Linked DNA regions of Homo sapiens. The protein of the gene in region 2 purifies or fractionates together with the protein of the main gene of each other region. This does not show direct contact. Each region holds a gene or a part of one and is shown on either strand. Other genes may lie near its edges.

Region 1 (3,650 bases), on a different chromosome or scaffold from region 2:
CAGCCAGAAGTTCTTAATTATAATGAAATCCAATTATTTATTTATTTATTTATTTATTTTGAGATCAAGTCTTACTCTGTCGCCCAGGCTGGAGGGCAGTGATGTGATCTCAGCTGACTGCAACCTCTGCTTCCTGGGTTCAAGCAATTCTCCTGCCTCAGCCTCCTGAGTAGCTGGGATTACAGGCGCCTGCCACCACACCCAACTAATGTTTGTACTTTTAGCAGAGATGGTGTTTCGCCATGTTGGCCAGGCTGGTCTTGAATTCCTGACCTCCCAAAGTGCTGGGATTACAGGCATAAGCCACTGCACCCAGCCCAATTTATTATTATTTCTTAATGATTAGTGCTTGTATTGTATTTTTAAAATGTTTGCCTACCCCAGGCTGGGTATGGTGCCTCATGCCTATAAATCCTAGCACTTTGGGAGGCAGAGGCAGGCAAATAACTTGAGTCCAGGAGTTCAAGACCATCCTGGGCAACATGGCAAACAAAACCCTGTCTCTACCAAAGATACAAAAAATTAGCTGGGCATGGTGGTGTACGCCTGTGGTCCCAGCTATTCAGGAGGCAGAGGTGGGAGGATTGCTTGCGCCCAGGAGCCAGAGGTTGCAGTGAGCTGAGATTATGACACTGCACTCCAGCTTGGGTGACAGAGTGAGATCCTGTCCCCCGCCCCCCAAAAAAAATTGCCTACCCCAAGGTCATGATGATATTTTCTGTTAACTTCTGGTAATATTATTGTTTGCATTTCACATTTGTGACTATAATTCATCTTGAATTAATATTTGTATATGATGTAAAACAGGGGTTAGTGTTCTTTTTTTCCCCATATATCACCCAATTTTTTATTTTATTTATTTATTTATTTTTTTTTTTGAGACAGAGTCTCATTCTGTTGCCCAGGCTAGAGTGCAGTGGCGTGATCTCGGCTCACTGCAGCCTCAACCTCCCAGGTTCAAGCGATTCTCCCACCTCAGCTTCCCAAGTAGCTGAGATCACAGGCACGCGCCACTAGGCCCAGCTAATTTTTGTGTCTTTTGTAGAGACGGGGTTTCGCCATGTTGCCCAGGCTGGTCACGAACTCCTGAGCTCAAGCGACTGGCCCAACTTGGCCTCTCAAAGTGCTGGGATTACAGGCCTGAGCCACCACGCCTGGCCTATATTATTCAATTTTAATTTATATCACGCACACAGCTTACAAAGAATCCTTCTAAGAAGCCATAGACTGAAGAGAACAACAATGACGGCACAAGTGAGCAAAAAGAAAACAGCCGACCTCTCACTGCTCCTCCTGGGCGTAAGGTCTTCCTTCACTACATTATGAAATAAAAGCAGTAACGGGTTAACTGGATCTGACAAGAAATGGGCCAAAAAAGGCAGGAGGAGGGGTTGGTATCTTTTCAAGACTATTTGAAACAAGGTTTTATATCCATTATCATTAAAAGAGAATTCAAAGTATGAATCCATCACAATCAGCAAGATATGTATCCAATGAGAACAGGAAAAAAAACTTCCAGGCTGTTTTCATTAAGGGAGAAATTGATCTCACTAAAATTAATGATAAAAGTTAAGAAGCTTCTTTGGAATGTATGTAAAACATACAATACATAAGTATATGTATATGTAATTTATAAATAAATGAAGGTATTTGGGGTTATGTGCTCATGACAGCTTTCCTGGTAGTTACGTGTTTGAATTAAAAACAATCATACAGTGGCTCACGCCTGTAATCCCAGCACTTTGGGAGGCCAAGGCAGGTGGATCACCTGAGGTCAGAAGTTCGAGACCAGTCTGGCCAACATGGTGAAACCCTGTCTCTACTAAAAATGTACAAAAATTAGCCGGGAGTGGTGGTGCTCACCTGTAATCCCAACTGCCTGGGAGGCTGAGGCACAAGAAACGCTTGAACCTGGGAGGCGGAGGTTGCGGTGAGCCGAGAACACACCACTGCGCTCCAGCCTGGGTGACAGAACGAGACTCTGTCTCAAAAATAAAATAAACTAAAATAAAATCATAAAAATAAAAAGAATCATAGACCAGCAACTTAGGGGATGGCATTTGGGCCTGGGCACAGCACTTTAGAACTTGGACAAACCAGAGTGCTTCCAGCTTGGTAGTGGAGGGGACGGGGTGGGGACCAAGATGCAGAGGGGGGTTGATGCTATGTCACCATCCAAAACACATTGTAAGGCCCTGGCACTGTTTCTGCTGGAGAAGAGAAAGAGGTTAGAAGAGGGAAAAGCATTAATCTTATGTCTGTAATCTTATGTAAAGGACAGAACAAAAATAAAATAGGAATATCCATGAATAAAGTTCTGGAGACTGAGGCAGGAGAATCGCTTGAACCCAGGAGGTGGAGGCTGCGGTGAGGGAGATCGTGTCATTGCGCTCCAGCCTGGGCAACAAGAGTGAAACTCCGTCTCAAAAATAAATAAATAAATAAAGATGAAAATGCTAGGGTTTGGGGTAGTTTCCCAATTTTCCCAAGGTGCATAGCCATGATCAGTTGGCTGAAGGTGTATATGCGTCTGCGTGTGTGTGTGTGTGTGTGTGTATGTACCTGTACACACACATATATGGTATACGTGTATATACATATGGTGTGTGTGTGTCTATATACACATGTATATACTTATCCTTGTATTAGTAACATGTGAGGCACATCATTAAAAGATGCATTTTCGGCCTGGTGTGGTGGCTCATGCCTGTAATCCCAGCACTTTGGGAGGCCGAGGCAGGTGGATCACTTGAGGTCAGGAGTTCAGGACCAGCCTGGCCAACACAGTGAAACCCCGTCTCTACTAAAAACACAAAAATTAGCCAGGCGCGGTGGCATGAGCCTGTAATCCCAGCTACTCGGGGGGCTGAGACAGGAGAATCACTTGAACCTGGGAGGCAGAGGTTGCAGTGAGCCAAGATCACGCCACTGCACTCCAGCCTGGGTGACAGAGCAACACTCCATCTCAAAAAAAAAAAGTTAAAAAAATGCATTTTCACTCATCATATTGGCAAAAATTAAAAAGATGAATAATACCCATGGTTGATGAGGATGTGAAGAAAAAGACACTGTTATTACTGGTGGAATCAGAAGATGCTATAATTCTTTCAAGGGCACTCAAAACTTGGCAAAATTGTCAATGTGTACACTTTTTGGACAGCAACTCTACTTCTAAAATTTTACACTCCAGAAAGACTTGGACATGCTCACACCCAATGTTCTCTATTGTTGATAACAGTAAAAAATAAGAAACAATCCAAACAATTTGGGTGTAGCCAAATAATTTGTGGCACATTCTTTTTTTTTTTTTTTTTTTTTGAGACAGAGTCTCACTCTGTCGCCCGGGCTGGAGTGCAGTGGTGCGATGTCGGCTCACTGCAAGCTCCGCCTCCCAGGTTCACACCATTCTCCCGCCTCAGCCTCCCGAGTAGCTGGGACTACAGGCGCCTGCCACCACACCTGGGCAATTTTTTGTATTTTTAGTAGAGATGGGGTTTCACCGTGTTAGCCAGGATGGTCTCGATCTCCTGACCTTGTGATCTGCCCGCCTTGGCCTCCCAAAGTGCTGGGACGACAGGTGTGAGCCACCGTGCCCGGCCAGCACATTCTTATAATAAAATTGTGGGCCTAAGCCGGGCACGGTGGCTCAT
Region 2 (3,650 bases):
GCAGTCAGAGGTAGATAGTTGGCTGATCTGGAGGAGTACCAGACTTAACAGATGATAACTGCCTTTGAAAGGCTTAAAACCTAGCAATTTAAATTAAACCCGATTCTGAGCTAGGCTGTTTGCCTTTACACAGGTGTTAAAAATCGAAGGACTTCGGCAAGTTACAGTGTCACTGTCACTGCCACTTAAGGAAACCACCTTAATAAACAGGCATGCCTACCAGAATCTGCCAGCAAAAGACTGACACAGTTCAGCAGCTTGTTTTTTTTTTAGCAGTCTTTCTTAGCCTGACAGTTGGCCTATTTTTTTTTTTCACATGGAAAGCACATGCAAGCTACTATACTCAGCGAAACCAAATACAACAGAGTCCTACTATTATCTATAAAAAAAAAGCCATGTCTGGCTTTCCTCCAAATGCAATTAGCTGCGTCCACAGTTCTCCTTATAGCAGCTACCAGCATTCAAGATTTATATTCCTTATATTCCAAACTTCAAACCAAAATAAAAATATTATACTCAATTCCTTCTCTACTTACTAAAATGATTATGACTTCCCCTTTAGCTCTTAGGATCATTCAATAACAATGGTTTTCAAACCATATTCCAAGAGGCCCAGTTAGTAATGTGGTTTGAGGGGAAGGGATGGGACACGGATGTGATGAATTACCTCTCTCACACTGCTTTAATCTGTTTTATATGCCATAGGTTTGAAGAAAAGGTTCTAATGCTAAAAAAAGAAACAATAATCACTGAGGTAATAGAACTAGATTATCATCTACAATGACCTACATAAGGCACTACACTGTTACATGAAATTAGCCAACTTTCAATGTCCTGGGCTAACAGGAGATAAGAACAGCATAGTAAAGAAATGTAATTTATTAAAACTCTATTTTTAGCCAATGATTCCAATCATCCATCTTCAACTGTTTTTTTGCAACAACAAATAATTAGTAAAACAGAGTTGAAGTCTGGTGAAATGTATGGGCAGTAATAGAGAAGCCAAAGTGAAAATAGATCTGAATATTTGAATCTACATAGCAGGCCCTTTGCCTTTAGTTGTTACTCACAGCATACTAAATAAGTGGCAGGCCATATCCTACCAGATACAGGATATACACAGACATCTACAGAAATTACCCCTCCACCATGGCAGAATGCTGTTATTGGCTGCAATCCCCAAGAGACAATAATACCGGGCCAGCCACCAAGCCACTTAAATTAATTCCTAGTGTGAGATTCTGACTCAGAAGCCAGGTCTTTCTGTTTCAAGCATAATAGAAAGGCAACAGCAACCAGCAGGATGTGGGACCTGATGCAACTCACCCGTGCAGAACTCCTTGCTCACGTTGTGGGGCACTATGATCCGTCGATAGACAATGGGCTCGGACTCCAAGATGTTCTCATCATGGCGGTACCGAGTGGGCCTTTCATTTGGGATGCCCCGGGAACGGGTACCACTTCTCCTTTCATAGGTATCAATCTCCTCAAACACAGCTGCCTTGTCAAAAAGAGCCAGGTTCCCTTCAAAATCAAAATCTGTGTCTGGGATCTCCTCAATATCATCCCCGAAGCACTCGTCATCTTTATTCTTCATCTGGCCATTCTTTAAACCACTTTTCTTGGGAGTTGCCTGATTTGGGTGCCTGCTACTAGATGACCCTGGAGAAAAAATAGGGACTAAAGTCAGTGTATCCACAGAAAGCGCTCAGTGAACGTGGAAAATACATTAGTCTTTTGTGGAGAGTGTTACAGGAACCAATGTGAAAATGGTAAAGGTAACTATTGCAAACTCATATTAAGTAGCACAAACAACAAATCTCATGTGCAATAATAGGTTTCAAACATCACCCAATCTGGGCACAGTGGCTCACGCCTATAATCCCACATTGGGAGGCTGAGGCAGGAGGATCGCTTGTGCCTAGGAGTTCAAGGCTGCAGTGAGTGATGATCACGACACTGCACCCCAGCCTGGGCAAAGAGCAAGAATCTGTCTCAAAACACACACACACACACACACACACACACACACACAAACAACAACAAATATTACCCAAGTAACTTGTTAATGAATATGAAATAAGCAGTACTCCTGGAAATCTTAACCAGTTATCCCCTTCATAAGGAAACTGGTAATGACAAAAGTTTTTCTGACAACTTACTATTAGCAAACAAGAGGAAGAGTAAGAATATAGCATGGTGGTTTTGACATAATGACAGAGGCAGGAGGCAGAGAAATTCTAGAGGCGGGTCCCTGGCGAAGCCCCACCTTTGAAGCTGAAAAGGCTGAGACTGTGGCCCAAAGTGAGAACTTATATCCCTGTTTTCCCACTAGAATGTTGTCTTTTCTTAAACCACCCATGGCTCTGCCCCCACCCTATCCTGTGCCTATAAAGACCCCAGACTCAGTCAGCAGAGATGAGAAACAGCTGGATGTTGGAGACTATGGCTGGATGTCAGAGAGAAGTGGCTTGACTTCAGAGGGATAGCTTGACTGTGTAACTATGGAGAAGAATTTGGCTGGAGACAGCCAGACTTAAGGGGAAAATTACCTACCCACCACTGACTGTCCCCTTTTCAGCTCCCCTTCCCACATAAATAAAAATAAAATCACCCACATTTACCATCCTTTAATTCATTCATGTGACCTCATTTTTCCTGGACACTGGACAAAAGCTCAGAAGCCATGAGTGCAGATACAAAAGACTGTCACACTGATCCTTTGCCCTCACTGGCAGAGGGCAGCTGCAGGCCCACTGAGCTGTTAACACTTAAGCCATCTGTGGATGGCAGAGCTAAAAGAGCACCATAACACATCCTCTGGGGCTTCAGGAGTTGTAGACACCCCACCTAGATGCTGCCATATGGCCTGCACAGAGTTCGCTCCTGCTGGTGCCCAGAAGCGCTCATTCTGGCTCCTGCACCGGCTCACATGTGCACTCCCTCCCACAATGGGTAGAACACAGTGGGTCTGAGTGAGTGGAGTTTGATCCCACTGGCACTGAAACAGACAGCCAGGTTCCAGTGCTTGTGCACTCCAGTTCCTGCCTTGTTCTCTCGCACACTCCCTTCTGCAAGGAGTTGAGAGCAGTGCGTGGAGTAAACGGGGCACCCCTGTCATGAGTCCTGTGAATAGGTCAGGGAAGGGAAATATCCTGCTTCAGTTTGAGTCTGAGTGTCTGGCAGTTGTTTAAGAGAGAAATACCCCCAGAGTAAAAGAAGGCCTGGTCTTATAGCCTGAAGCTTGTAGGAAAATACTATTCAGCTAGTCCTTAAATCTATGCTTACCCAGCAAGCAATCTTCTGATTTTTAATTTGGTCTTAGGCTAGATCCCAGCAGCAGGGAATCCCTGGTTTGCTCAAAAAATTCTACATTCTGAGCCAGGTATACACCTACCACTACAAATTGCTATTCTGACTTACAAACCTTTCTTTAGACCTTTCGGTTAACGTGATCTCTTTTCTCAGAATTTTATCTCTTGTGGGTAAGCAGTTTCTGAAACACCAAATAATGACAGGGTCCATACTGAACTGATCCTGTAGAGGCCACACTAATGCACATCCACAACAGAGTAGCCAGCCACACCCTGTCTCTGACACCTTATTTGGCTACTACACATCAGTCAACAACTACTCTAGCAGCCAAGGCA
Region 3 (3,750 bases), on a different chromosome or scaffold from region 2:
TTGATGGAAAGACACATACGGTACAAAATTACAGGTGGTTTAGTTCATTACATGATACAAATCATTAGAGTCTTTACAAGTCATTAGAGTCTTTGGATTTTTTAAACTCCCATTTACTGTGTACCAAATCAATATAATCACAGAATCAAAGTCACTTCTTTATATGTGAACTCTTCGCATTTACACGAATCCACACATAGAGAAGCTGTTCCAAGACCCCCCAACACCATTAGTGTCTGCAGCCCACCAGGAAGGCACCACGGACTTTGTGGAGAGAAAGATGCTTTGGGGGTTCAATGGGTCAGTATCTTGGGCAGGAAGCACAGGGTGACTCCCGTCTTGTGTGCGTGCGCACAGCCACCAACACACACTCTCAGGACTTCCCGTTTCACATACAGGGAACTTTTAAGGCAAGAGGAGAAAATGCTAGGAAGTAACGGGGGATCAGAACTCCTCCACCTCTCAGGCTCCAGCAGTCACATTCCCAGCTCCGTTCTCTTGTTGAACCTTGGTAGGCCCAGAAACATCTTCCCCCTCCTCACCTCTGCCCTCCCGCTCCCTCTGGTCAGGCCTGGGTACCCAGGAACCCAGTCACACACCTGCCCCCTGTCCCCTCTGCTGCTGGACGCAGTGCCCGGGGCAGAAGTGAGCCTTCTCACCCTGGAGCCTCAGTCCTTCATAAGGGCCCGAGGGAAGTGGCGGGGTGGGGCCAGGGATGTTCTGGGCACACAATGGGGAGGCAGGGCCCCCAGAAGCATCCCCCACCCCCATCTCTGACAGCGCCGCGTGTGCAGTTACTGCCCTTCCCGGCCTTGGGTGCCATCTGCGGGCCGACCCACACTAAGGTGCCACTCCTGGGGCCTTCCAGGAGCGCATCGGGAGTCCTAAGGCGGGTGGGCGGGCAGGCGTTCTTGGGAGGTGAGTCTGCTGGTCAGGGAGGCAAGAAAAGAAGATAGAAGACGGAGGCCAGCCCGCCCTGGCCCACCACTCTGGAGACCGCACCTCCTGCCTGCCAAGTGCTGGCCCGGGGTCAGCGGGGCTCACTGCCTTGGTGACCACGTCACTGCACATCCCTCTTTCCCAGCCACAAGCTGACATTAGTCCGCACCGAGAAGCAAGAGTGAACAGGGCCTGGGCCCAAATCCACCTGCTCAAGTCAGGAACTCTGGCTCGTTCTACTCCACTGTAAGTCAAACCGATGGTAAAAAGCACGACACACACGTCCCCCAGGACTTTCCCAAGATGGTGCTACAGGAGGCCGCTGCTGGGTGGATGGCTCAGCCACCACGAAGTGCCAGGTCCCACCCACGCTGCCCGTCCGCCACCATTCCCAGAGCGTCCCCACTACACGGCCCAGGCGTTTCCCCTCAGGGCAGCAGCAGTGCTGGCCTCTCACCCAGGCCATAGTGACACCAGCGGACCCAAAAACAAACTTCTCAGTGAAACAGGTTTTAAAAAGAAAGCCGCTGTGCTGGGAAGCGGGTTGAGTTAAAGGGCAAGGCAGAGGTGACAGCTCTTCATCCAGGGACAGGTGCCACAGGGTTCCCTCAAAATCGGCTAAGGACAGGGAGAGCCCTGGAGGAGTGCCTCCCCCCAGGGGCCGGGCCCTCTGCCAGCCCGGCCGCAGCCTTCGTGTCCCTCGCCAACTGGGGAGAGAAAGACAACCTGTCCTCGCAGCCAGGGCTGGGACAGGCCCACCATGGAGACTACTCTGTTGGCGCCTTCAAGTCCCTAGAGAACCAGAGCCTTCCGCAGCGCTTTCTAGATGTTGACTAAATGTGAGAACTAGAAACCAGCTCCAAGGGTGGCTGTGTGAATCTTGACCCAGGACTCCTGTCCCTAGATTGGTGGCCTTCCACACATAGACGCTAACCCCCATCCCACAAACCTGGCACCAAAGGCTCTGGGAGCATAAGTGCCCCAGCCAGGAGGTGGAGGCCACCCCGGAAGCTTCCGGCTGTCCCGCCCACACCATGCACGGTGGGCCTGGGGGCGTGGCTGCTGTGAGGGTCTGGAGACTAACCAGCACACTCCCTGCACCAGCCCAGCCGCCAGGCCCCAGCCCCACACTCTGAGAGTCTGGGAGTTGCCGAGAAGTTAAAATGACCCAAAGACCTTCCTAGAAACCAAAAGTGCACCAAATAAAGTAGCAATGCCTCTTCCTTTGTCACCGACTACAGAAGCACATCATTCTCCCAGGTTTTTGCTCTCATCCAAGTTAAGAGTAAGGCCACTGTGGATCCGCAATAGAGGGATGTGAGGAGGGGGCTTTATCCTCTGCCGTCCCCAGGACCCTCCACCTGGGCAGGAGGCCAGCAGCTCTGCAATGGCCAGAGAGGCTGCAACGTGCAAGGCAGGCCCTGGGCCCCCCCACACAGGCAGACGACGATTGCGGCTCGCAAATGATTTCGGATTTTGAAAAAATAAATATAAATAAATACATTCCAAGCCTTCTGTGAAGGGAATAAACGGCAAACATAAGAGACTTTCCAGGTGTCTAAAGATGCCAAAACATCCACAGAGAAACCGCTAAGAAACCCTGGCAGAGGAGGGATGGGGGGGCTCAGGCCCTCGGCCCCCGTCTGGGGCACCAGGACCATCTGCCAGAGCCCAGGGCCCTCCAGAGGCACTTGTGGAACCTGGGACCAGGGTGGGAGGCTGGGGGGTCCCCCAGAGGCACTTTGCGGGAAACTGGGACCAGGGTGGGAGGCTGGGGGGCTTGCGGAGTGAGCCAGGACATCCTGGGTGGGTGGGGGGGCTTGCCCTCCAGTGGGGAGGAAAGGCACTGGTTACAATTATGGTTTAGGTTAAGACATTAGTGGGGCCACCAGAATGGAAATGATAGAAAGAGCAACATAAGGCCCCAGGCACAGGCACACAGCAAGATCACCAGGCGCTGCACCACCCAGGGTCTCAGTCCTAGCATCCCCCAGCCCCTGCGGGCACCCAGAACCTTCCATCCACCTGAGGAGGCACAGTTGAGGCCCCCACTTTACCCGGGTACAGAAGAAACAAAGCTTCCAGAGGCCCAGGGAGGTCACCAGCCCTGTGTCGTGCAAAAAGCATTCATCGCCCTGCCCCTGGGGAAGGGGCCACCGGGCTCCTGGCTCCTCAGGGCTGTCACTGGCAGGGCTCAAAAGGGGCCGGGCACCCCCAGAAAAGTTCGCCCTAAGGCAGCGGCTCAGCTGGCCCAGGATTTCCGGTTCTCAGGGTTCTTGTGGCTCCTGTCGGCCTTGGCCAGGGCAGCTGTCAGCGAGGCCAGGTTGGTGGCGGAGCCCGAGAGGGTGGCGCTCCGGCGGGCCTCGGGGGCACCCAGCCGGAGTCCTGTGCTGCGCCGCCGCACAGGGCCCGTGGCCCTGCGGACCCGGCTGGGCCTGACCAGCAGCCCGTAGCCAGGGTTACACCTGAAGTACTGCTTCCCGCCGATGGAACCGTCATTCTTACCTGCGGGGGAAGGAGAGGGTGATATGGAGGGCAGCCGAGCTGCAGACGGCCCCCTGCACCTCCCTTACCTCTGCAGAGGCCATGTGCCCACACTGCCACCCCCCCGCACAGGCCCTACACAGCCAGCACTCGGACACTGGCCATTGTCTGGCAGGGACTGGCTAAATGAATGTGGCCAGGGCCTGGGGTGACCGCCTCCCAGGACAGTGAGCAGTGGTGACCAAGGATGCACAGCCCCAGTCCTGCAGCCTCAGGTAGGAGGTGACAGGCCCTGGGGGCCCTGGGGAGTGCCTTGTGGAAGCATAG

Evidence for each region.
Region 1: the proteins of EDC3 (region 2) and CBY1 purify together in Homo sapiens (affinity purification with mass spectrometry, with the first as the bait; one large-scale study listed by BioGRID). This does not show direct contact.
Region 3: the proteins of EDC3 (region 2) and KIF13B purify together in Homo sapiens (affinity purification with mass spectrometry, with the first as the bait; one large-scale study listed by BioGRID). This does not show direct contact.

The regions. Positions count from the first base shown.
Region 1 is NC_000022.11:38,659,530-38,663,179, reverse strand, and holds part of CBY1 (protein chibby homolog 1), read right to left. Parts: intron 1-3,650. UniProt on the Homo sapiens protein: Inhibits the Wnt/Wingless pathway by binding to CTNNB1/beta-catenin and inhibiting beta-catenin-mediated transcriptional activation through competition with TCF/LEF transcription factors.
Region 2 is NC_000015.10:74,654,407-74,658,056, forward strand, and holds part of EDC3 (enhancer of mRNA-decapping protein 3), read right to left. Parts: intron 1,663-3,650; coding exon 1,327-1,662; intron 1-1,326. UniProt on the Homo sapiens protein: Binds single-stranded RNA. Involved in the process of mRNA degradation and in the positive regulation of mRNA decapping. May play a role in spermiogenesis and oogenesis.
Region 3 is NC_000008.11:29,067,323-29,071,072, forward strand, and holds part of KIF13B (kinesin-like protein KIF13B), read right to left. Parts: intron 3,445-3,750; coding exon 3,182-3,444; 3' UTR 1-3,181. UniProt on the Homo sapiens protein: Involved in reorganization of the cortical cytoskeleton. Regulates axon formation by promoting the formation of extra axons. May be functionally important for the intracellular trafficking of MAGUKs and associated protein complexes.